Linked DNA regions of Homo sapiens. The protein of the gene in region 3 interacts with the protein of the main gene of each other region in a biochemical or structural test. Each region holds a gene or a part of one and is shown on either strand. Other genes may lie near its edges. The genes, in order: SEPTIN7, TRIM50, HDAC6, MIIP, KPNA1, RPA1 and USP10.

Region 1 (3,500 bases), on a different chromosome or scaffold from region 3:
CCCGTCTCTACTAAAAATACAAAAATTAGCCGGGCGCGGTGGCGGGCGCCTGTAGTCCCAGCTATTCAGGAGGCTGAGGCAGGAGAATGGTGTGAACCCGGGAGGCAGACCTTCTTACAGCGAGCCGAGATCGCGCCACTGCACTCCAGCCTGGGCGACACAGAGAGACTCCATCTAAAAAAAAAAAAAAAAAAAAAAAAAAAAATTCAGCCGGGCATGGTGGCACATGCCTGTAATCCCAGCTACTCGGGAGGCTGAGGCAGGAGAATCACTTGAACCGGGGAGGCGGAGGCTGCGGTGGCTGAGACTGTGCCATTGCACTCCAGCCTGGGCAACAAGAGCGAAACTCCGTTTCAAAAAAAAAAAAAAAGTTTTAAAAAAGCAATTTCAGAAATGAAAACAGAAACATCATAACATCCATGACCACAGCTTTCTTGATTGCTATGGTGTCAAAGTGTCTGATACTTCCTGGAGTCAAATACTTGTTAAATCAATGAACAAAGTTTACAAAAGTTTCAAATTACCACTGCAGGAATATTTCAAATATATTTTATAAAGCACAGCAAAACTGGTGGAAAATAGTTTTGATTTTCCTGAAAACAGTCAATCAGAGCCAAAGATTTTCAGGGCCCCATCCCAGGCCTATCATTTATCAAAGTGTGAAACACTATGAGAATCTGTATTCTTTGAAAAACACCATGACGTTCATTTTATTTGAAATCTTATATAATAAAGAAGTTATAGGGATGGGGAGACTTTAGAAAGTTACCCAGAAAAAACACTTTAAATGAGTCAACTAACAAAAACAAAAAAACTAATTCATGGCTATTAGAAATCTTATCAGTGGTTACCTGGGGCAGTAGAAGGAGAACTCCAACAGGGCACAAGAAACTCTGGGATGGTGGAAGTATTCTCTATCTTGATTAGAATAAAGGCTACAAGATGTGTGTATGCACATCAGCAATTCATTGAACTAAATACTTAAAATCCACGTATTTTTTTCTATGAAAGCATACAATAATGAAGTTACTTGATAAGTCGGAAAGCATTTGGAAATGTAGACTCCTGGGTCCCTCTCCCAGAGATTGCTAATCAATGGGTCTTGTAGTGGGAACCAGTTAATCTGCATTTTTAACTCCAAGCCATGGTTGACCCTTCAACCATACTTTAGAAAATAATGACCTAGCATAATGTTCTATGTCCAGTAATTACTGATCATGCTTTGCAAAAATATATCAATTAATGATAAACTTTTAATACAAAAAAATCTAGGTAATTTTGATTCCCAAGTTTAGGAAATACTAAGAATATTAAGTGGTAGGAGTTCCAGGAAGAAGTAAAAAGTAAGACAGTTAAGGAAGCTTGTTCCTTCTTCCCCGTCTCCCACAATCCTTCAATGGCTCTCCATCACCTAGTGCAGTGGTTCTCAACCAAGGATGATTCTGCTCCCCCACGTGACATTTGGCAATGTCTGTAGACATTTTTTTCATTTCACAACCAGAGAGAGCATGTGCTGCTGGCATCTTAGCACGATGACAGCAGGGATGCTGGTAAATACTGTACAATGCTCAAGACAGCCCTCCCCTCCCTCAAATAATTACAAAACCTCAAATGAGAAACTCTGACCTGGAGCCTCACCTCCAATAAAGCTACCAGAAGTAGTCAGTTGTGTCCCAGAGTTAAACAAAACAACAGAATTAAGATGTTACAACTTCAGGAAAGTCCATTTTTACTTCCAGATCAGTGGGGAAGGAGGAAGAATATCATCTTTATATTTCACATAAAGCAAACAAACATTGAATAAAATGCAAATGACACATGAATACTTAAGACTTAGAAAACTTCAAAATAACGTAAGCAGGAGCAGCTTCAGGCTATCCCCCCAATCACAGGGGATACTTAATTCTCAGCTTTCAAAGTATAGTATTTTTAAAGTTAACACTGGCCTAAAACATAATACTGTACATAAACTTTAGCATGACAGTCTGTTGCTGCAGCATAGTTTAACCTAGTGCTATGCAAAGTGTGGTCTGTGGACCAATGAGCCAGTCTGTGAATTATCAGTTTATGTCAGAGAAACACAAATTGAGAGCACAAAAATGGAAAATTTAATAGCAGAATAATTTTATGTCTATTGAAACTAATAATAAAAAATTGGGGCTTATAGTTTATCTTTCTTATTCCATTTCCACTTTTTTTATTTGCAGTATAGTCATGCAGTATGTCCAACGTTTGGTCAACAATGGACATTTATGACAGTAGTCCCATAAGATTACTATGGAGCTAAAAAAATTCATATCACCTGTGATGTCATAGCAGTCACAAGTTCATAGTACAGCACATCATCTTTTCTATGCTTAGAAGCACAAACACTTGGCCGGGCGTGATGGCTCACATCTATAATCCCAGCACTTTGGGAGGCCGAGGCAGGAGGATCACTTGAGGTCAGGAGTTCCAGACCAGCCTGGCCAACATGGTGAAACCCCGTCTCTACTAAAAATACAAAAATTAGCTGGGCGTGGTGGCGAGTGCCTGTAACCCCAGCTACTTGGGAGGCTGAGGCAGGCAAGCACCTGTAATCCCAGCTACTCGCGAGGCTGAGACAGGAGAACTGCTTGAACCCAGGAGGCAGACAGAGGTTGCGGTGAGCCAAGATTGCACCATTGCACTCCAGCATGGGCAGCAAGAGCGAAATTACGTCTCAAAAAAAAAAAAAAAAAACAAAAAAAGAAACACGCTTACCATTTGTCATAATTGTTTACAGTAGTCAGTACAATAACAAGCTATACAAGCTCATAGCCTAGAAGCAATAGGATATAGCCCAGGTGTATAGTAGGCTCTACCATCTAGGTTTGTGTAGGTAAAATACTCTATGATTTCTCAATGTACCGTATTGTTAACAACGCCTAACTGTAGTTTTTAAAATTACAATCTAACCTACTCTGACTGGTGTATCTATTGAGTAGCAAAGCCAAGATTTGCATCCATATCTAACATCAAAGCCCATGTTCTAAATCATTATTAAGATTTTGAACTCAAACCCCAATGTGTAATCCCTACATCTGGATAGCTGGACTGCACCAAGTGTAAGTCACAAGGATTTAGTGTGTGTCTGGTCTACGGCCTTCAACACTTAATGCCAGCCAAGCTGCCTCTTTGGCCCCTCTTCCCCAAGCCCATGCTCAAAGCTTAGTCTCCAGATCTCTGATGATGCAAAAGGACACAGGAAGACAAAAACAAAGAAAAGATTCATCCTCAAGGCCTAAAGCAGAGTCACCGAATGCTACCCTTTTCTTTTGGAAGCCACCCTGGTTTCTGGCTATGGGGGATAACATCCTCTCAAATAGGAGTAGGCCTCAGATCTCTCTAACCATGCGAGCTACATGGAGTACAGGATAAATGAATCCAAAGTAAGAAAAAGCCACACGGACTTAACAGTCTTTAATTTTAAAGTCTTCCTTCCTCACACCAAGACCTCCAACCCCTAACATAAGGTTCGA
Region 2 (3,500 bases), on a different chromosome or scaffold from region 3:
CCGGGCAGTCCAGGAGAAGTGCATTTATGTCAGCTTGGGGAGGTCGCAAATCCGTGCTGTGTCCAAGCCCACCAGGAATGGATTCAGGTGTTTATGGGTGTGGGGATTCACCAGGTTTAACCCAGGCCCGTGTGAGCACCACTGGCCCTAGAATTAGCCTCACCTGGCGCCGGCCTTTTTGTGATGGCTCCTGATTAAATACCCACTAATTCTGGATCTGCTGGTGACCACAGAGTTCACCTGATGGGTCCCCTACAGGCAGCATTCAATCCAGGAAGTGCCAGCATCACATGGTGACTTCTGGTAGCTGTAACGTTTAGTGACTCTCTCCATGTCATGCAGAGGGGTGACATTGAGACCCTCTTATGCCTGGGAAGTTCCTGCTGTCAATGCAGAATATTCTTTAAAAAAAAATTAGAGATGGGATCTCACTGTGTTGCCCAGGCTGGTCTCAAACTCCTATCCTCAAGTGATTCTCCCACCTTGGCCTCCTAAAATGCTGGGATTACAGGCACGAGCCATTGTGCCCAGCCTAGAATATTCCTTTTTTTTTTTTTTGAGACGGAGTTTCACTCTTGTTGCCCAGGCTGGAGTGCAATGGCGCGATCTTGGCTCACTACAACCTCTGCCTCCCAGGTTCAAGCAATTCTCCTGCCTCAGCCTCCCGAGTAGCTGGGATTACAGGCATGCACCACCACGCCTGGCTAATTTTGTATTTTTAGTAGAGACAGGGTTTCTCCATGTTGAGGCTGGTCTCGAATTCCTGACCTCAGGTGATCCACTCGCCTCGGCCTCCCAAAATGCTGGGAGTACAGGCGTGAGCCACTGCGCCCAGCCTAGAATATTCTTGAATTAATTTATCTTATTTTTTATTTTTATTTTTTTGAGACAGAGTCTCACTGTGTCACCCAGGCTGGAGTGCAGTGGCATGATCTTGGCTCACTGCAACCTCCACCTCCCAGATTCAAGCGATTCTCGTGCCTTAGCCTCCCAAGTAGCTGGGACTACAGGTGTATGCCACCACGCCTGGCTAATTTTTGTATTTTTAATAGAAATGGGGTTTCACTATGTTGGCCAGGCTAGTCTCGAACTCCTGACCTCAAGTGAAGTCCCACCTCAGTCTCCCAAAGTGCTGGAATTACAGGCGTGAGCTTCTGCGCCCAGACTATTCTCGAACAATTTAACCTGTTTTGGACTCAAGGGTACCTGGGTGGCTCTGGTTCCCGCCCTGGTTTCCCTGGGAGTGCTTGTGGCCATTGGGATACTCCCAAGAAGGTGATCCAAGGAGCTGAGAAGGGGAGGGATCAGCTGCTCATGGGGCCATGGCCTGTTGCCTCCAGGAGGAGCTCGCAGCCCTCATCTCTGAGCTGAAGCAGGAGCAGAAAAAGGTGGATGAGCTCATCGCCAAACTGGTGAACAACCGGACCCGAATCGTCGTGAGTGCCCCTTCCCTCTGCCCCTGCCTGGGACCGGCCACCTTCACTTTCCTGTAGAACTCAGTTCTCATTGGTCCTTTACAGAAAACCATGCCTTCCATATAAAGCCAGAACTCAAAGCATTCCCAGGGCGGGGTGGGGAAAGCGCAAATCCTCTCAGGGGAATTCAACCCAGTTGTCGTTAGGACTGGCTCCAAGTTGGCTTTTGCCCTCTGTGTCCTTGAGACTGAGATAACCCAGGACTTGAGTCTCAGGGGGTAAACAGCTCAAAGCATGGGCATGACTCCTCCGCCCCTGTGCCACCTGTGTCTGCTTGACCTTGCCAGCCTGTCATGGTGCCCTCCCAGTACCTGGGTGCTCAGGCGTGGAGAGGCTGGCAGCCCTGGGCCCTGGCTGATCTCCCGAAGTGAGAGGCACATGGGGCTGGGAGCCATAGTGCCCCGGCCCTGGAGGTGGCTGTGAAACAGAAACAGGAGCCGGGCAAGATCCAGGAGCACTCAGCCTCCCTCATTTACCCTCCTCACCCTTGCGCGGCAGGCGGTACCAGCCCTGCCTGGTGGAGGCGGAGCTCAGGGTTCTGCAGGGAGTTCTGGCTCCCTCACAGCAAAGCCTGCTCGCCTAGGGCCTTCCTGCTTTCCTTCAGTTGTGGAACTCTGGGATATGCACATTTAATAGCTGAAATAGGCAAAGTGGGGTGTGGTGGCGTGCATCTGTAATCCCAGCAACTCGGGAGGCTGAGGCGGGAGGATTGCTTGAGGCTGGGAGGTCAAGGCTACAGTGAGCTATGATCATGCCACTGTGCTCCAGCCTGGGCAACAGAGTGAGACCCTGTCTCTTAAAAAAAAAAATTAAAACAGGCCAAAACAGAGCCTCTCCATTTGAAACGGGAGCTGGGGTCACCCTCCCCACGGCCACCGCCAGGGCTCCCCATGCATGGGGTGAACTCCCTGCCCGGCGCCAGGCCATGCAGCCTCCCCTGAGACTCAGGTCCCAGGACCAACCCGGTCAGGAAGGCCCTGGGGACACCGAGGCCAGCCAGACAGAGCCTGGCAGCTCGGCTGTGACTCTGCAGTGACCAGCCCTCCCTGTCCCAGAATGAGTCGGATGTCTTCAGCTGGGTGATCCGCCGCGAGTTCCAGGAGCTGCACCACCTGGTGGATGAGGAGAAGGCCCGCTGCCTGGAGGGGATAGGGGGTCACACCCGTGGCCTGGTGGCCTCCCTGGACATGCAGCTGGAGCAGGCCCAGGGAACCCGGGAGCGGCTGGCCCAAGCCGAGTGTGTGCTGGAACAGTTCGGCAATGAGGACCACCACAAGTTCATCCGGGTGAGTGGACAGGGAGGCGTCCCATCCCCATACCCGCCAGGGCCTTCCCCTTCCCAACAGTGCCCTAGCTTCCCACCTTCTAGCCTTAACCTCCCTCTCTCTTGCCTTCCAGAAGTTCCACTCCATGGCCTCCAGGTAATAACCTTGGAGAGAGCTCAGCCAGGGTCTGGTGGCTGCGGGCACGGGCATCTCAGCTCCACTGGTTCCTCCATTCGGTTTAACCAGCGCCTCCCAAGCAGCTGCCCACAGCTGGCTCTATAACTGAGCCTGGGAAAAACAGAGGAAAGTCATGTCCCTGCCTTCAAGGGTCTCGTAGATGGGTGGGGAGGCAGATGGTGAACTGTGGGTACCTAGAACAGCAGAAGTTCACTCAAGCTACAGAAATACTAGAGGAGGGTAGCTCATGCCTGCAATCCCAGTACTTTGGGAAGCCAAGGCAGGAGGATTGCTTGAGGCCAGGAGTTCGAGACCAGCCTGGCCAATGTAGTAAGACCCCATCTCTACAAAAAATACAAAAATAAAAAAATTAGTTGGGCATGGTGTCATGTGCCTATAGTCCCCGCTACTCATGAGGCTGAGGCGGGAGGATTGCTTGAGCCCAGAAGTTTGATGCTGCAGTGAGTCGTGACCATGCTACTGCATGATCCAGCCTGGGTGACGGAGCGAGACCCTGTCTCAGAAAACAAAACAGAATGCTAGAGGAGGAGCAGGTGTCTGGGGGACCTGGCAGAGGGGCACA
Region 3 (3,205 bases):
GAACTTGCCTTCATGCCATACAGAAATCCGTCTTCACACTGTCCAGGAACCCCTGGCCTCACATCATACAGTAACCACTGACCTGACCTGCACAAGACGACTGCTGTGAACCCATACAAAAGCCCCTGCCCTGACCTAGTACAGGAACAACTGGACTCTTTCTCCACATGGACTCCTGTATTGACTTTTTTTACACTCTACAGGAATCCCAGTTGCTATTCTTTTTACAGATAAAGAAACTGAGGCTCAGAGTGGTTAGATGACTTGTCCGAGGTCATAACAGCTGAAGAGGCAGCACTGGGGTTTGAACTTGGGCTCTCTGATGGAGTCATCTGTGTTCTTAACTCCCACCGTGTCCTGTCACAAGCAGTACTGGGCACATAGTAAGTGCGACTTTTTGCAAGCCAATTAATTTCTCAGTGACTTATTTTCCTCATCTGTAAAGTGGTGAAAATAACAGCACAGGCTGGGCGCGGTGGCTCACCCCTATAATCCCAGCACTTTGGGAGGCCGAGGCGGGAAGGTTACCTGAGGTCAGGAGTTTGAGGCCAGCCTGGCCAACATGGTGAAACCCCCGTCTCTACTAAAAATACAAAAATTAGCCAGGCGTGGTGGCATGCGCCTGTAGTCCCAGCTACTCGGGAGGCTGAGGCATGAGAATTGCTTGCTCGAGCCTGGGAGATAGAGGCTGCAGTGAGCCGAGATAGCGCCATTGCACTCCAGCCTGGGTGACACGGCGAGACTCTGTCTCAAAAGGAAAAAAAAAAAAAAAAAAAAAAAGAGGCAGGTATGGTAGCTCATGCCTGTAATCCCAACACTTTGGGAGGCTGAGGCAGGTGGATCACGAGGTCAGGAGTTCAACACCAGCCTGGCCAACATGGTGAAACCCCGTCTCTACTAAAAATACAAAAAAATTAGCTGGGTGTGGTGGCAGGCACCTGTAATCCTAGCTACTCAGGAGGCTGAGGCAGAGAACTGCTTGAACCCAGTGAGCCACAATCGCACCACTGCACTCTAGCCTGGGCGACAGAGCAAGACAACGTCTCAAAAAAAAAAAGAAAAAGAAAAAGAAAATAAGAGCACAGAAGGTTGCTGAGTGGGTTAATATCTGAACAACGCATAACAGTAACCAGGGGCCAGGTGCGGTGGCTCATGCCTGTAATTCCAGCACTCTGGGAGGCTAAGGTGGGTGGATTTCTTGAGGCCAGGAGCTCAAGACCAGCCTGACCAACATGGTGAAACCCCATCTCTACTAAAAATACAAAAATTAGCTGGGCGTGGTGGCGGGTGCCTGTAATCCCAGCGACTCAGGAGGCTGAGGTGGGAGGATCACTTGAAGCCGGGAGGTGGAGGCTGCAGTGAGCTGAGATCATGCCACTGCAGACTAGCCTGGGTGACAGAGCGAGACTCTTGTCTCACAAACAACAACAACAACAACAACAACAAAAAACCAGATCCAAAAGATCCAGCATTTACCATATGCCAGGCATTCCTCCATGATTAGCCTGCCTCATAAAGATGAGGAAACTGAGGCACAGGGCGTGGGGATACTGAGTCATTTACAAAGGTCAGTGAATTTCCTTTGTCCCAGGAACTTGTTAGAGGCAGTTCAGGTAGAGTAAAAAGCACAAACCCTGGAGCCAGGCTGCATGGGTTCAAGTCCTGGTTCTGCCATCAGTAAATGTGCCATCTCAGGCTAGTCATCACACCTCTTTGTGCCTCAGTTTCCCTGATCTTCAGAGAGGAAAATGAGGTAAGCTTACCCTACCTCATAAGGCTGCTTTGCCAAGTAACTGAATGAATAAGACACATGAGGTGCTCAGAAGAGTGCTCTGCACATAGTGAGCACTCAATTAAGGCTGTTAATGTTGCTGTTATTCTTATTACTACCCAGTATGTGCCAACAATCCCAGGCAGGGACACTCAAAGGAGATTTCAGGAAACTGTCCTGAGTGATGGTGCCAACATTTCCAAACTACCCTCCCACTGTGGGAAGAGGGACCAAGAGAAAGTTACCTCTAGGATAAGGATAATGCGGCCACTGGCAAGGCCCATCAGCAGGTGGGTGAGGTGGGCATAACCCTCAGGTGACACCTGGCAGCCCCCCAGCGGATCCCCCCGTGCAGCATCAAAGCCAGCTGAGACCAGCACCAGTTCTGGGTTAAACTGAGGCAGGGAGAGAAGAGATGTATAAGCATGAGGGTAGGGGCTTTTGGTAGGCAGTAAGTGATGGCGACCCAGAGACATGGAGAAAAGGACAAATGAAGACATGGAGATGCAAGTCAGAGAGATGGAGACACAGAACCTGGAGACTAGGAGACACAAAAGCAGAGACTGAAAATGAAGAAGGGAAGAAAAGAAATACAGACTCAGAGGTAGAAGAAATAGATGCAGACTTAGAGACATGGAGATGGCAGAAAGGGACAGATGGGGGCCGGGCATGGTGGCTCAGGCCTGTAATCCCAGCACTTTGGGAGGCCGAGGCGGGCAGATCATGAGGTCAGATTGAGACCATCCTGGCTAACACAGTGAAACCCTGTCTCTACTAAAAATACAAAAAATTAGCCAGACGTGGTGGCGGGAGCCTGTAGTCCCAGCTACGCAGGAGGCTGAGGCAGGAGAATGGCATGAACCCAGGAGGCGGAGCTGGCAGTGAGCCGAGATTGCACCACTGCACTCTAGCCTGGGTGACAGAGCAAGACTCCATTTCAAAAAAAAAAAAAAAGGGACAGATGGGGACATGAGACAGACTGACACGTCAAGAGAGTGACATGAAAAACAGAGAGACAGAGACATGTCCTCACACACACATACCCCAGGGTCAAACGTGGGACACACATACACAAGATACAGGGTTTTATATACATAGTGCCAAAGAGAGGTGCTTGCACACTTCCAAAACAGAAGATGGCAACGCAAGAACCACATACAGAGAAGATGGTCACACAGAGCCACACGTACTGCCACACAGACAGTACCATATAGATCAGTACTATATATCTGCACTAGTCATGTACACACACACAGTTTCTCAAAGAGGACAATAACCCACAGCCATCCTGCACAGTCACATACACATGCCATCACCACACAGCCACAATGGCGACATGCACTCTGGTATGTCCACAAGAGCTGGTTATTTGCACATACAGTTGTACACACACAGAAGGCTGTCCTGGCTACCCATGCACAGTCAGATGCACAT
Region 4 (4,001 bases), on a different chromosome or scaffold from region 3:
AATTTATTTATTGAGACAGGGTCTCTCAGTCAGGGTGGAGTGCAGTGGTGCAATCAAAGCTCACCACAGCCTCAGCCTCTTGGACTCAGGTGATCCTCCCATCTCAGCCTCCCGAGTAGCTGGACTACAGGTACGTGCCTGGCTCATTTTTTGTAGAGACGGGGTTTTGCCATGTTGCCCAGGCTGGGTATCTTTTTTTTTTTTTTCTTTTTTGAGATGGAGTCTTGCGTCTTGCTCTGTCATCCAGGCTGGAGTGCAGTGGCGCGATCTCGGTTCACTGCAATCTCTGCCTCCCTAGTAGCTGGGTTCAAGCGATTCTCCTGCCTCAGCCTCCCTAGTAGCTGGGATTACAGGCGCCGGCCACCTCGCCCGGCTAATTTTTGTATTTTTAGGTTTACTGGCGTGAGCAACCGCGGCCGGCCCCAATACTACACTTTCTTGTTTACTGTGTAGTCCTTATCTTCTGGCGCAAAGCGGGCACTCGCTAAAAACCTGAATGAAAGTATAAAGCAGGCCGGGCGCAGTGGCTCATGCCTGTAATCCCAGCATTTTGGGAGGCCGGGGCGGGCGGATCACGAGGTCAGGAGTTCGAGACCAGCCTGGCCAACATAGTGAAACCCTGTCTCTACTAAAAATACAAAAAAAAAAAAAAAAAAAAAAAAAAAAAAAAAAAAAGCCGGGCATGGTGGCGCTCGCCTGTAGTCCCAGCTACTCGGGAGGCTGAGGCAGGAGAATCAATCGCTTGAACTCGGGAGGCAGAGATTGTGGTGAGCCGAGATCGCGCCACTGCACTCCAGCCTGGGCAACAGAGTGAGACTCCGTCTCCAAAAAAAAAAAAAAAAAGAAAAGTATGAAACGATGAGTACAATGAGTAGCCAGCCGCCTGCCCCACCTACCCCGCCGCTCCGGACTGCCGCCTGCGCCGAGCCTAGGCCGCCCAGCCTGACTGAAACTGCCGCTGCTGAACTCAGCGTATCCAGTCCCGCAGCTGACCAATCGGAGCTCGCCCTTCCGGGGCCCGCCCCATTCCAGGAATCGACCTCCGCACCGGCCTCGAAAATTGACCAATCGGTTGTGTAGCTCCGCTCTTAGTCCCGCCCCCACGCTGAAACTGACACTTCGGATCGCCGAGTAACGCTCACCAGACGTCCCGGCCCTGCCCCTCACCTGACCAATCAAGACGGCCGGCCGAGGCCCCTGGAACGGCTCAGGCGGCTGCGGCTGCTACGGCGGCGCATGCTAGGGGATTCTGCCGGGTGAGTGCTGGGCGGCAGGACTGGGGTGGGGCGGAAGGGCTCGGCAGGAGGCCCCACGTGCATTCCCGCGAGGGGCTCGGGGGCCGCAGTGGAAAAGAAGGGTAGGCTGCATCTGCCTCTGCGGGGGTCCCGCCTCGGCGTCCGCCCGCTCGCCCTCTGTTACTTCTGCGGCCCCGGTGTTTCTGGAGCGTCGCTTTCCCGGTGTCTCCGCTCAGCTTTTCCCTTTCCAAAGCGCGGCCGGGGCCAGGGGAGGGCAAGGCCTGCTGTGCCCTTTGACCCCGTGCGAAAACGGCGACCCTCTGACTATAGGGGTGTGGCCCAGAGCCACTTGGCCAGTTAGGGGTGGGGGCCGGGATCTTTGTCCTGCGGATCAAACAGTTGGCCCCTCTGGACTGCATCTCCGTGCCCCCCGGCCCTGCGGGGTAATATACGTGTGTGGGGGAGGTTCCGGGGTAGTCGGCTACTCTGTGCTCCAGACCTTGCACCCGATCCTGAGGATCCTTGGAGGTGGGGGGCAAGGGCTGGGAGGAGGAGGCGGAGTTTTCCCAGGCTCCCCCACACTTCCAGGGAAAGGCTTTCCAAGAACCCTGAACTCATGGACCCTGGAGTCAAATTTTGGTTCAGATCTAGCCTCTTGCTAGCTGTGTGACTTGGGGCAAGTTGCTTAACTTCCCTGAGCTTTGGTTTCTTCATATGTAAAAAGAAAGTGAAGGAGGAAGGGAGGGCAGGAAAGGAGGAAGAATCCCTTTTGAAGCCTGATTTGTGTTGGACTCACCAGTTATAAAGCAAGCTTGTCCAAACCACTGCCCAGGAGGCGGAGGTTGCAGTGAGCCAAGAAAAAAAGGAAGCATGCCCTTGCCCCAGCCATTTTGGTAATAATAGACGTTTATTGAATGCTTACTGTATACCACTGTAAGCACTGTATTAAGTAAGCACTGTACTGAGTGCTTTGTTTTTTGTATTTTGTGTGTGTGTGTGACAGTCTTGCTCTGTCACCCAGGCTGGAGTGCAGTAGTGTGATCTCCACTCACTACAACCTCCGCCTCCCAGGTTCAAGCGATTCTCCTGCCTCAGCAGCCTCCTGAGTAGCTGGGATTACTGGCGCCCACCACCACACCCGGCTAATTGTTTGTTGTTGTTGCTGTTTTTGAGACGGAGTCTCACCCTGTCGCCCAGGCTGGAGCGCAATGGTGCGATCTCGGCTCACCGCAACCTCTGCCTCCCGGGTTCAGGTGATTCTCCTGCCTCAGCCTCCCGAGTAGCTGGGATTACAGGCGCGTGCCACCACGCCCGGCTAATTTTTGCATTTTTAGTAGCGACGAGGTCTCTCGCCACGTTGGCTAGGCTCATCTCAAACTCCTGACCTCAGGTGATCCTCCTGCCTCAGCCTCCCAAAGTGCTGGGATTACAGACGTGAGCCACTTGGCCTGTTTTTTGTTTTTTTTACAGTGATGCAACCATGGCTCACTGCAGCCTGGGTCTCCTGGGCTAAAGCTATCCTCCTGAGTAGCTGGGGCCACAGACAAGTGCCACCATGGCCAGCTAATTAAATTTTTTTTTGGCCAGGCACTGTAGCTCATGCCTGTAATCCCAGCACTTTGGGAGACCGAGGCAGGCGGATCACAAGGTCATGAGATCGAGACCATCCTGGCTAACACGGTGAAACCCCGTCTCTACTAAAAATACAAAAAATTAGCTGGGCGTGGTGGCAGGCGCCTGTAGTCCCAGCTACTCAGGAGGCTGAGGCAGGAGAATGGCGTGAACCCGGGAGGCGGAGCTTGCAGTGAGCCGAGATTGCGCCACTGCACTCCAGCCTGGGCGACAGAGCAAGACTCCATCTCAAAAAAAAAAAACAAAAAAACAAAACAAAAAAAAATGTTTCTACAAATGTTGTCCAGGCTTAACATGCTTTCTTTAATTCTAACAACAATCGTATGAGGTAGATACTGTTGTCGTCCAGCAGATGAGGAAACTGAGGCACAGAGAAGTTAAATAACTTGCCTGAGGCAGTACAGTTAAAGAGTGTCGAATGGGGGTCTCTGGCACCACAGGGCACCCTACTGAGCCCCGTGTCCTGCTGTCTTGACTTCAGGTAGAAGAGCTGGGCCTGGAACCCAGCCCTGAGGACATCCTGCGGCCCAGGGGCAAGTGACACCTGCTGAGAGAGGCCCAGGATGGTGGAGGCTGAGGAACTGGCACAGCTGCGGCTGCTCAATCTGGAGCTCCTGAGGCAGCTGTGGGTGGGGCAGGATGCTGTGCGGCGGTCAGTGGCCAGGGCAGCCTCGGAGGTGCGTGCCCGCCTTGGGAACCCCAGAGGAAGGGGCTACCTGACCTTCAGGCCAGCATCCAGGCTTCTGGGCTCATCTTGTTCAATACACCCATTTTACTGATGATGGGACATTGAGGGCTGGGGAGGGAAGAGACTGGCCTTGGTCACTGCTGAGGCCGGAGCAGGATGAGGATGCTTGCCTTGGTGCCTGGCGTAGGCCCGGTGGGTAGGTTCTGGCAGCCACTCCCTGGGTGACCCGGCCCCTCTCTCCAGTCAAGCCTGGAATCCAGCAGCAGCTACAACTCAGAGACTCCATCGACCCCAGAGACGTCCTCAACTTCCTTGAGCACCTCCTGCCCACGGGGCCGGTCCTCCGTGTGGGGCCCACCAGATGCCTGTCGAGGGGACCTCCGTGATGTGGCCAGATCGGGGGTGGCCTCTCTCCCACCTGCCAAATGCCAGCACCAGGAGTCCCT
Region 5 (3,500 bases), on a different chromosome or scaffold from region 3:
CAGCCGGGTGCGGTGGCTCATGCCTGTAATCCCAGTATTTTGGGAGGCAGAGGCAGACGGATCATGATAGGATATCGAGATCATCCTGGCCAACATGGTGAAATCCTATCTCTACTAAAAATACAAAAAAGGCCGGGCGCAGTGGCTCACGCCTGTAATCCCAGCACTTTGGGAGGCCGAGGCAGGAGGATCACAAGGTCAGGAGATCGAGATCCTGGCTAACACAGTGAAACACCGTCTCTACTAAAAATACAAAAAATTAGCTGGGCACGGTGGCGAGCGCCTGTAGTCCCAACTACTTGGGAGGCTGAGGCAGGAGAATGGCGTGAACCCGGGAGGCGGCGCTTGCAGTGAGCCGAGATAGCGCCACTGTACTCCAGCCTGGGCGACAGAGTGAGACTCCATCTCAAAAAAAAAAAAAAAATACAAAAATTAGCTGGGGGTGGTGGCGTGTAACTGTAATCCCAGCTACTCGGGAGACTGAGGCAGGAAAATCGCTTGAACCAGGGAGTCGGAGGTTGCAGTGAGCCAAGATCGCGCCCAGCCTGCACTCCAGACTGGCAACAGAGCCGTCTTTAAAAAAAAAAAAAAAGGTAATCACCCTGCCCACCAGTAAATGCATTCCTAACTTTCAGTGGTAAATTGCTAACATTAAAATCAACAATCATAACTCTTTCAAGGAGTATTTTTAAAGTCACTCTATAAAAAAAAGTCAGTCTCTCAATTTGAATTAACATGATACTGACTACTATTCACTATAAAGTCTTTTATAAAATAACCCAAAAATGAAAATAATTCTGTTTTCTGATCCTGGTGAGATCCCACAAATAAATAGGAAACTTAAAATTTAGGCATGGTTCACAATTACATATATGTCTGTATTTTTATTCTTTTATTGATAAAAATACTCCAACACAAATTACCTGTGGTATGAAAAACAGACTATGGGAAAGTAATTTTGTAGAGAGATGAAAAAATATACTGAACATATTCATAGCTCACCTTTTGAAAGCAGCTTCCTGAATTTCTGTGTTGCTGAAAGCTGTTGCTCTGGGCTTTTGGAAAATATCATTTCAATCATGTCAGAAGTGATGACACCACCCTGCGATCACAAACAAAAAGAACATATAATAAATTATCACCCTTAATTCAAAGGAAAGAAAGATAACAGATATCATGGCCAAGTTATTAAGTTAATCATACTTCCCCAGAAGTTACATAAAGGTAGGACAATCTTTACATATAGAAACGTGTAAGATTATTAATAATATAATGAAGCCAAATTCTTTGTCTATCATTAAAAAGCTCACAGTAGAAAGTGATCTTACTAGTAAATAAGACAAGGAGCTTATTGCTCTTCCCCTCCTTGCTCATCACATAGCTGGCTATTCTTTCTTATCAAAATTAAATGTTAAGTTTTAAAAGATGGCTTTTCAAGACCTCCAAGCCTAAAGTAGCCACTTTATCTCTATCACAGCACCATATTTCAATCGTATGCCCCAGCCCTTATTACACTCCCAGATATTTTTCTGTGTTCCTCCAGTATACTGTAACTTCCTTGTAAGCCCAAGACCCTGTCTGTCTTACTCTATCACTAAGGGCTGGTGTACTGTAAATGCTCTGCAATACTTATTGAGTGAGTAAATAGAGTGGTCCTGTATAAATCCAGCCACTGCCAAATTCAACAGCTGACTCTTAAACTTATTTAAAATTTCTTTCTTGTTTTATTAAAACTTTCCAGTTTCCCACTACCTTCTTGCTTTATTAGAATGTTTCCATTTCCCACCATAACTCATCCCCAGTATTAGCAGTTAATTTTCTTCTCAGGGTCATTTGTCAGAAAGAAACAAAGTTCTTATTTCATGAAGGGTAGCAGTCAACAAGATGAATTGTGAAGAAAGCTGCACTAAGCTGTAAATGCTAGATGACTGGTAAGCAATACCTAAGAATCCTCATAGGGGAATATATGACGCATTCTACTCAAGAATCAGAAAAGTAACTATTTTCAAAATTGCAAGACTGATTCCTAAATCAAGGTTTCTATATGATTTGTTATGAATATGTTTGCATAAACACATTCATATATATATATACACACATTAAGCAAATATCTTTTTCTTCCCTCTCTCATCCTCTTATAGCAAGCTGTACTGACTTTACATTACACTATTTAAGTATTGTTAACTTTACATTATAATATTTAAGTCACAGGCTATCAAGGACAGGAGTGAACATCACCCAAAGATTTTGCATCCTCTTCCGCAGAAGGAGTTAGTAAAGATGTGCCTCAACTTACAATGAATGGGGTTATGCCCCACTAATCCCATCATAAGTTGAAAATATTAAGTAAAAAGTACACTTAATACACCTAACCTACCAAACTTCATTGCCTAGCCTAGCCTACCTTAAACATGCTCAGAACACATACATTAGCCTACAGCTGAACAAATGATCTAACACAAAGCCTATTTTATAATAAAGTGGTTGACTATCTCGTGTAATTTACTTAATACTGTACTGAAAATGAGAAACAGAGTGACTGTATGGGTATTCAAAATACAGTTCCTACTGATTGCATATTGCTTTCACACCACTGTAAAGTTGAAAAATCCTGACTTGAACCCTCCTAAGTCAAGAACCATCCATACATTTTTAGTTGCACAAAGGAAAGTTGTAATCTGGCTGGGTGCGGTGGCTCACGCCTGTAATCCCAACACTTTGGGAAGCCAAGGCGGGTGGATCACGAGGTCAGGAGTTCAAGACCAACCTGGCCAATATGGTGAAACCCTGTCTCTACTAAAACTACAAAAAAATTAGCTGGGGGTAGTGGCGCACGCCTGTAGTCCAAGTTGGCCTCATCCAATCAGTTGAAACCCTTAAAAGCAAAGACTAGGTTTTCTGAAGAAAAGGGATTCAACAACATCAACTCTTAACCTGAATTTATAGTGGGCCAGTGTGCCCTACAGATTTCACACTTGCCAGCTCCCAAAGACACGAGCCACTTTCTTAAACTAAATTTCTTTCTCTCATTGGTTCTGTTTCTCTGGAGAACCCTAATACAATCCATAAAACACTTTATATTCACTTAACACTCTCTTCTTAAAAAAATTGGAAAGACTGGCTTTCTGAAGGGCCTAGAAACTTTCATCACAAAATGATGGCATTGGCTATGTCTGTATGAATTCCAAAGGAAATAATACTACCCTCCCAACTCTCAAAGAAAGCTGGTTCATGTAAACTGGAGATCTATGAAATGAAATAAAAATAAAAACTACAAAATACTATGAATAGTATGCCACCATTTACCAAAAAAAAAGGTGGGGGAGAGGAGAACATTTTAATATACAAAAGTTCTCAGAAAGAATAAATAGGAATTTAGTAATACTAGTTGCCAATGGAGAAAAATACTAGGTGGCTAAGCGGAAGAAAGATTTTTCTTCATTTTTTTTAATTGTACTTTTTTTGTTACTACAAACAACAGTACCTTTTAGGAGATAATT
Region 6 (3,500 bases), on a different chromosome or scaffold from region 3:
CCTGGCCAACATGGTGAAACCCCGTCTCTACAAAAAATACAAAAAGTAGTTGGGTGTGGTGGCACATGCCTATAGTCCCAGCTACTCGAGAGGCTGAGGCAGGAGGATTGTTTGCATCTGGGAAGCAGAGGCTGCAGTAAGGTGAGATGGCACCACTGTACTCTACCTGAGTGATAGTAAAGCCCTGTCTCAAAAAAAAAAAAAAAAAAAAAAAAACTAGCTGGGCGCAGTCGTCCCAGCTACTCAGAGGGTGAGGAGGGAGGATCACTTGAGCCAGGGAGATAAAGCTGCAGTAAACTATGATCATGTATGTCACTGCACTCCAGCTTGGATGACTAAGTGAGATCCTGTCTCAAAAAAAAAAAAAAATGAAGCTAGAGGCCAGGCACGGTGGCTCACGCCTGTACTCCCAGCATTTTGGGAGCCCAAGGCAGGTGGATCACATGAGGTTGGGAGATCAAGACTAGCCCAGCCAGCATAGTGAAACCCCGTCTCTACTAAAAATATAAAAATTGGCTGGGTGTGGTGGCGGGCACCTGTAATCCCAGCTATTCAGGAGGCTGAGGTAGGAGAATCGCTTGAACCCGAGAGGTGGAGGTTGCAGTGAGCCGAGATCTCACCACTGCACTCCAGCCTGGCGACAGAGCTAGACTCCATCTCAAAAAAAATAAAAAATAAAAAATAAAAATGAAGCTGGAGAATTTACAATGCCAGATTTCAAGATTTACTATAAATCTTCAATGTTTATGATGATGTGGTATTGACATAAGCACCAACATAGAAATCAATTGACATTCCAGAAACAGATACACATATACAGTCCATTGATTTTATATAAAGTGACTAAGGGGCCGGGCGCAGTGGCTCACGCCTGTAATCCCAGCACTTTGGGAGGCCGAGGCAGGTGGATCACGACGAGGTCAGGAGATTGGGACCATCCCGGCTAACACGGTGAAATACCGTCTCTACTAAAAATACAAAAAAAAATTAGCCGGGCATGGTGGCGGGTGCCTGTAGTCCCAGCTACTCGGGAGGCTGAGGCAGGAGAATGCTGTGAATCCGGGAGGTGGAGCTTGCAGTGAGCCGAGATCGTGCCACTGCACTCCAGCCTGGGTGACAGAGCGAGGCTCCATCTCAAAAATAAAAAATTAAAAAAATAAATAAATAAAGTGACTAAGTAACTCAATGAAATGGGATAGTGTTTTCAATAAACAGGGCTGGAACAACTGAATATCTGTATTTAAAAAAGAGCTATATATCATAGATAAAATAGTAAACTTGAAATGCATTACAGACCACAAGGCAAAGCGAAAACTATAAAACTTCTGGAAGAAAACACAGCATAAAAGATTTGTGACCTTGGGTCGGGTAGGCAAAGATTTCTTTTTTTTTTTTTTTTTTGAGACTGAGTTTCACTCTTGTTGCCCAGGCTGAAGTGCAATGGTGCGATCTTGGCTCACCACAACCTCCACCTCCTGGGTTCAAGTAATTCTCCTGACTCAGCCTCCTGAGTAGCTGAGGTTACAGGCATGCGCCACCACGCCCGGCTAATTTTGTATTTTTAGTAGAGACGGGATTTCTCCATGTTGGTCAGGCTGGTCTCGAACTCCTGACCTCAGGTGTTCTGCCCGGCTTTGCCTCCCAAAGTGCTGGGATTACAGGCGTTAGCCACTGCACCCTGCTGTTTTTATTTTATTTATTTAATTATTTTTTTGAGACGGAGTTTTGCTCTGTTGCCCAGGCTGGAGTGCAGTGGTGCGATCTTGGCTCACTACAAGCTCCGCCTCCCGGGTTCACGCCATTCTCCCGCCTCAGCCTCCCGAGTAGCTGGGACTACAGGTGCCTGCCACCACGCCCAGCTAATTTTGTATTTTTAGTAGAGACGGGATTTCTCCATGTTGGCCAGGTTGGTCTCGAACTCTCGACCTCAGGTGATCCGCCCGCCTCAGCCTCCCAAAGTGCTGGGATTACAGGCATGAGCCACCACATCCAGCCTAGCAAAGATTTCTTAGGACACACAAACACAACTCTGCAAAAAACAAAACAAAAACAAACAAAAAAACACAACCTGATAACTTGGACTTCATGAAAATTTAAAAGTGCACTTCAAAAAAAACAAAATTTCAAAAAAGAAAAGGCAAGTCACAGATTGGGAAAAAATATATGTAATATTTATATTTAACAAAAGACCTAGCAAGAATCAAGAATTCTCACAACTCATTAATAAGCACAAAACCCAATTTTTAGGTGAACAAAAGATGTGAACAGACACTTCTTTCGTGAAGATATACAAATGGCCAGTAAGCCCACGAAAAGATGCTCAACGTCACTAGCCACCAGAGAAATACAAATAAAAGCACAGTGAGATACCATTACACATTCACTAGAATACTCGAAATCAAAGACTGATGACTGGCAAGGATATGGAGCAACTAGAATTCTCATGATCACACTGGAAAAGGTTGGCGATTTCTTTTACACATTCAGTTACCTGTGACCCAGCAATTACATTCCTAGATATTTATCCCAGAGAAACGAAAACATATTTCCACAAAAAGAGTTGTACTTAAATGGTCATAGCATCTTCATTTATAATAGCCAAAAGATGAAAATAACCCAAATGTGCAATAATAAGTAAATAAACAAATTTTGTTATAGTCATACAATGGAATACTACTGAGCCATAAAAAGGTGCAGATTACTGAATTAACATGGGTAAATCTCAAAAACCATTTTGGTCCACAGTGGTGGCTTGTGCCTGTAACCCCAACACTTTGGGAGGCCAAGGTGGGAGGATCACTTGAGCCCAGGAGTTCAAGATCATCCTGGACAACACACCAAGACTCCATCGCTACAAAAAATATTTTTAGGCCGGGCGTGGTGGCTCACACCTGTAATCCCAGCACTTTGGGAGGCTGAGGCGGGTGGATCACGAGGTCAAGAGATCGAGACCATCCTGACCACCGTGGTGAAGCCCCGTCTCTACTAAAAATACAAAAATTAGCTGGGGATGGTGGCATGCGGCTGTAATCCCAGCTACTCGGGAGGCTGAGGGAAGAGAATCGCTTCAACCCAGGAGGCAGAGGTTGCAGTGAGCTGAGATTGCGCCACTGCACTCCAGTCTGGCAACAGAGCAAGACTGTGTCTCAAAAAAAAAAAAAAAAATTTTTTTTTAATTAGCCAAGAGTGGTGGCATGCACTTGTAGTCCCAGCTACTCAGGAGGCTGAGGTGCGAGGATCTCTTGAGTTCAGGAGGTCAAGGCTGGAGTGAGCCATGACTGTGTCGCTGCACTCCAGCCTGGGTGACAGAGACCCTACCTCTGGGGAAAAAAAAAAAACTGCTGAAAGAAGCCAGACACAAAAGGATAGATATTATTTGATTCCATTTATATGAAGTCTTAGGAAAGGCAAAACTAACCTACAAAGGTAGAAACCAGAACACTGGTTGCCTAGGGTGAGGATGGAGGTGGGGAAGGAGCAAGAGGAGTTGTGCGTTGATG
Region 7 (3,500 bases), on a different chromosome or scaffold from region 3:
GTATTTATATTTATTTATATTTTTATATTTATATATATTTTTATATATATATATTTTTTGAGACGAAGTCTTCCTCTGTCACCCAGGCTGGAGTGCAGTGGCGCAATCTCGGCTCACTGCAAGCTCCGCCTCCCGGGTTCACGCCATTCTCCTGCCTCAGCCTCCGGAGTAGCTGGGAATACAGGTGTGCGCCACCACGCCCAGCTAATTTTTTGTATTTTTAGTAGAGACGGGGTTTCACGGTGTTAGCCAGGATGGTCTCCATCTCCTGACCTCGGGATCTGCCCACCTCGGCCTCCCAGAGTGCTGGGATTACAGGCGTGAGCCACCGCGCCGGGCCAAGACTATATATATATTTATTCAAGACCTGAAGTAGGCTTTCTGGGTAGATCTGATCATTGGAGAAGGAGAAACATATTTATTACGAGATACTAAGCATTGTAGTAGTCATCATTTGAAGCCTATAAACTCTATAAACTGCATAGTTTAGAAAGTGCCTTAGCTTGTTTGAGCCTTTACAGCAACTCTGTCCTGTATTATTATAACCATTTTACAGATGAGTAAGATAAGACCCAGAGAGGTTGTGGCTTGAGGTCAAATGGCTGCTGGCCATCAGGACCTTTTAAAAGCAGGTGTTTTGACTTCTAAATCCTTTGCTTTTTCTACTTTGCCAGACTGGTTTTCTGGAAGAGACTGATGAAGGCATAATCTTTCACACTGTGACTTCCCCTTAGTAGTTCCTCCATAAACATTTACAGAATGAATGAATGAAATGTGCATTTAGAAACTTTAATGTTACTAATTACAAAATTTGTTACTATAATATGTTACTATTCACTAAAGTTTGTGTGGGGTACATTTTAATAAAGTCGTTTATTTTATTTTCTAGTATAAAGACATGCTATTTTTAAGACACGAAAACAGCACAGACGTATTTAAAGTGAAAAGTAGAAGTCATTCCCTTCCTCTCTGATCCTTAATCGTCAGTTTGGTGTGTGTCTTCTATGCTTTTTTCCACTGGAGTATTTTGTTGTTGTTGTTCCGTTGTTTCATAATATGGTCTGTTGTATCTAGTCACTGAACTTTATTGAGCAAACCTTGTTTTCAAAATTATTGAAAACATCCACTGAAGTCAGTTTTCTTAGGTTTACCTAATTTTGCCAGGGAATGAAGCAGATATTCTGGAGATTGAAGTGACTTATCAGGATCCAGTGTGCAGGGGATTGTGGAAGTGCTGCCACAACTTATAACATGTTGTCCAAACAATTTTTTTTTTTCTTAAGAAATATTTTGGGCCAGGTGCAGTGAGTGACTCACGCCTGTAATCCCAGCACTTTGGGAGGCTGAGGCAGGCGAATCACTCAAGCTCAGGAGTTTGGGACCAGCCTGGGCAACGTAGCAAAACTCTTTCTCTACAAAAATACAAAAATTCACTGGGCATGGTGGTGCTCTCCTGTAGTCCCACCTACTTGGGAGGTTGAGGTGGGAGGATCGCTTGAACCTGGGAGGTGGACATTGTAGTGAGTCGAGATTGTGCCACTGCACTTCAGCTTGGGTGACAGAGCGAGACTCTTACGTCAAAAAAGAAAAGATAAGAAATATTTTGAAGACTTCCACCCCCTTAGTAGTAGTCATGCTGTCCGGTGTTCATAGTGTAAAAAGAGGTCTGGCTGGGCGTGGTGGCTCACGCGTGTAATCCCAGCACTTTGGGAGGTCGAGGTGGGTGGATCACCTGAGGTCAGGAGTTTGAGACCATCCTGGCCAACATGGTAAAACCTCATCTCTGCTAAAAATACAAAAATTAGCCGAGTGTGGTGGCGGGCACCTTTAATCCCAGCTGCTCCGAAGGCTGAGGCAGGAGAATAGCTTGAACCCGTGGGGGCAGAGGTTGCTGTGAGACAAGATCACGCCACTTCACTCCAGCCTGGACGAAAGAGTGAAACTCCATCTCAAAAAACAAAAAAGGAGGTCTGATTCACATTCAGATTCTTGTCCATCCATTGCCTTTGCACTAGATTTATGAGAGGACAAACTTTTTATTAGTTGGAGATTGGTAAGTCACCTGCCCTAGGGAATAATGAGAAACTGGGTAATTCACCTGAATTTTTCTCCATCTTCTTCAAAATCATGTTTTTGTCTTCTGTCACTTTGTTTCATCAGAGTACTGCAATGGCAAAAAACAAAACACTTCCCAACTCAGGTCCCACTCCTGAGAGATAACCACATTTAAGTACTTCTGACTTGTAATAGAATGCAAAATCGGGGCTTCCAAGTGTGGTTTACTATTTTGTTTAGAATTAATTTGTAGAATACTAGACACTTTTTTCAGAACCACATATGAAGGACTTTATATCTTTTGTGATTGTTCACAGATTTTGGTGGCCGGACGTTAGGAGTATAGAGCTGAAGAGAGAATTCCTGTGCTTTAGAGGTTCGCTGGGTAGTGAGGGAGAGAAGCAGGCTAATGGCTGGGTGCATCCAGTTTTAGGGTGGTAATTCCTGTAACACAAGTGTGAACAACATAGTCAAGAACATTCATTCATTCGTTTGTTCATTCATTCAGCAAATAGTTACCGAGTGGCTGCTGTGTACCAGGCACTGAGGAGGGAGTGATGAGCGAAAACAGGCATTGTTTCTCTCGCGGAGGAGTTTATGGGTCCATTGAGGAAGACAGCTTGCTAATCAGATAATCACAGTTACGTACACGTCACTCCAAACTGAGAGATGTTTCCCAAAGGAAGGGAACACAATCTGAAGTCAGAGAACCGTTCCCGTGGAAGTGACGTGTTTACAGCATGAGACAGTGGGGACAGCATGTGTGGTGGACCTTTGGCTGGAGGGAATTTGGAGCACTTTGGAGAACTCAGCAAGGAGTTGTGTGTCTTGGGCACAGAGCTGGAGGGGAGGGACAGACGCACCATCCAACCTTGCAGCCTTTGTTAGATGTTACTGTCTTTATTCTGAGAAAAGTGTGGAAGAGGGGGTGGTACAACATTTGACCATGGAACCTCATAATCACATTGCCTTTTGGGATCATACTCTGCCCAGTGAAGAATAGACTCACGGGGTCGCAGTGGCCATAAGGAGATCATTTAGGGCAGGGTCCTTGGACTTTTGACTCGGAGGGTGCCGTGGAGGTGGAGAGAAGTTGCGTGACTCAGGAGTTAGGTATAAGGTGTTTCAAAAAAGGAGGAGAGTGGGACTGAATGTTGGGCAAAGCTGGGAAGACGTCTCTTGTAGAACGGTGACATTTGAGCTGGAGTTTTTCAGGCAGAGAAGCACACGGACAAGGGCATGTGGAGGAGACTGTGCAGAGGAACTGTCTCAAAGCCTGCAGCCTGTTTGGGAAACAGATAAATTTGTGGCTGAAATGGTGTGTAGGGTGAAGTGGTTAGCCGGGAGTCTGGAGAGGAGAGAGAAAGAATTTGGTAATCCAAGCTCAGGACTGAGTGAAGTTGGTAGCAACTCTGTGTTAAGATAGCTGGTTGAGGCCGGGTGCG

What was found.
Region 1: the proteins of HDAC6 (region 3) and SEPTIN7 form a complex in vitro, tested with the Homo sapiens proteins (one study listed by BioGRID).
Region 2: of the proteins of HDAC6 (region 3) and TRIM50, one has a biochemical effect on the other in vitro, tested with the Homo sapiens proteins (one study listed by BioGRID).
Region 4: the proteins of HDAC6 (region 3) and MIIP form a complex in vitro, tested with the Homo sapiens proteins (one study listed by BioGRID).
Region 5: the proteins of HDAC6 (region 3) and KPNA1 form a complex in vitro, tested with the Homo sapiens proteins (one study listed by BioGRID).
Region 6: of the proteins of HDAC6 (region 3) and RPA1, one has a biochemical effect on the other in vitro, tested with the Homo sapiens proteins (one study listed by BioGRID).
Region 7: the proteins of HDAC6 (region 3) and USP10 form a complex in vitro, tested with the Homo sapiens proteins (one study listed by BioGRID).

The regions. Positions count from the first base shown.
Region 1 is NC_000007.14:35,804,057-35,807,556, reverse strand, and holds part of SEPTIN7 (septin-7), read right to left. Parts: intron 1-3,500.
Region 2 is NC_000007.14:73,318,083-73,321,582, reverse strand, and holds part of TRIM50 (E3 ubiquitin-protein ligase TRIM50), read left to right. Parts: intron 1-1,340; coding exon 1,341-1,436; intron 1,437-2,508; exon of another isoform or gene 2,509-2,530; coding exon 2,531-2,761; intron 2,762-2,873; coding exon 2,874-2,896; intron 2,897-3,500. UniProt on the Homo sapiens protein: E3 ubiquitin-protein ligase that ubiquitinates Beclin-1/BECN1 in a 'Lys-63'-dependent manner enhancing its binding to ULK1. In turn, promotes starvation-induced autophagy activation.
Region 3 is NC_000023.11:48,819,067-48,822,271, reverse strand, and holds part of HDAC6 (protein deacetylase HDAC6), read right to left. Parts: intron 2,167-3,205; coding exon 2,017-2,166; intron 88-2,016; exon of another isoform or gene 9-87; intron 1-8.
Region 4 is NC_000001.11:12,018,297-12,022,297, forward strand, and holds the start of MIIP (migration and invasion-inhibitory protein), read left to right. Parts: upstream 1-1,201; 5' UTR 1,202-1,256; exon of another isoform or gene 1,257-1,678; intron 1,679-3,348; 5' UTR 3,349-3,430; coding exon 3,431-3,544; intron 3,545-3,798; coding exon 3,799-4,001.
Region 5 is NC_000003.12:122,462,940-122,466,439, forward strand, and holds part of KPNA1 (importin subunit alpha-5), read right to left. Parts: intron 1,103-3,500; coding exon 1,003-1,102; intron 1-1,002. UniProt on the Homo sapiens protein: Functions in nuclear protein import as an adapter protein for nuclear receptor KPNB1. Binds specifically and directly to substrates containing either a simple or bipartite NLS motif.
Region 6 is NC_000017.11:1,836,505-1,840,004, reverse strand, and holds part of RPA1 (replication protein A 70 kDa DNA-binding subunit), read right to left. Parts: intron 1-3,500. UniProt on the Homo sapiens protein: As part of the heterotrimeric replication protein A complex (RPA/RP-A), binds and stabilizes single-stranded DNA intermediates that form during DNA replication or upon DNA stress.
Region 7 is NC_000016.10:84,706,500-84,709,999, forward strand, and holds part of USP10 (ubiquitin carboxyl-terminal hydrolase 10), read left to right. Parts: intron 1-3,500. UniProt on the Homo sapiens protein: Hydrolase that can remove conjugated ubiquitin from target proteins such as p53/TP53, RPS2/us5, RPS3/us3, RPS10/eS10, BECN1, SNX3 and CFTR.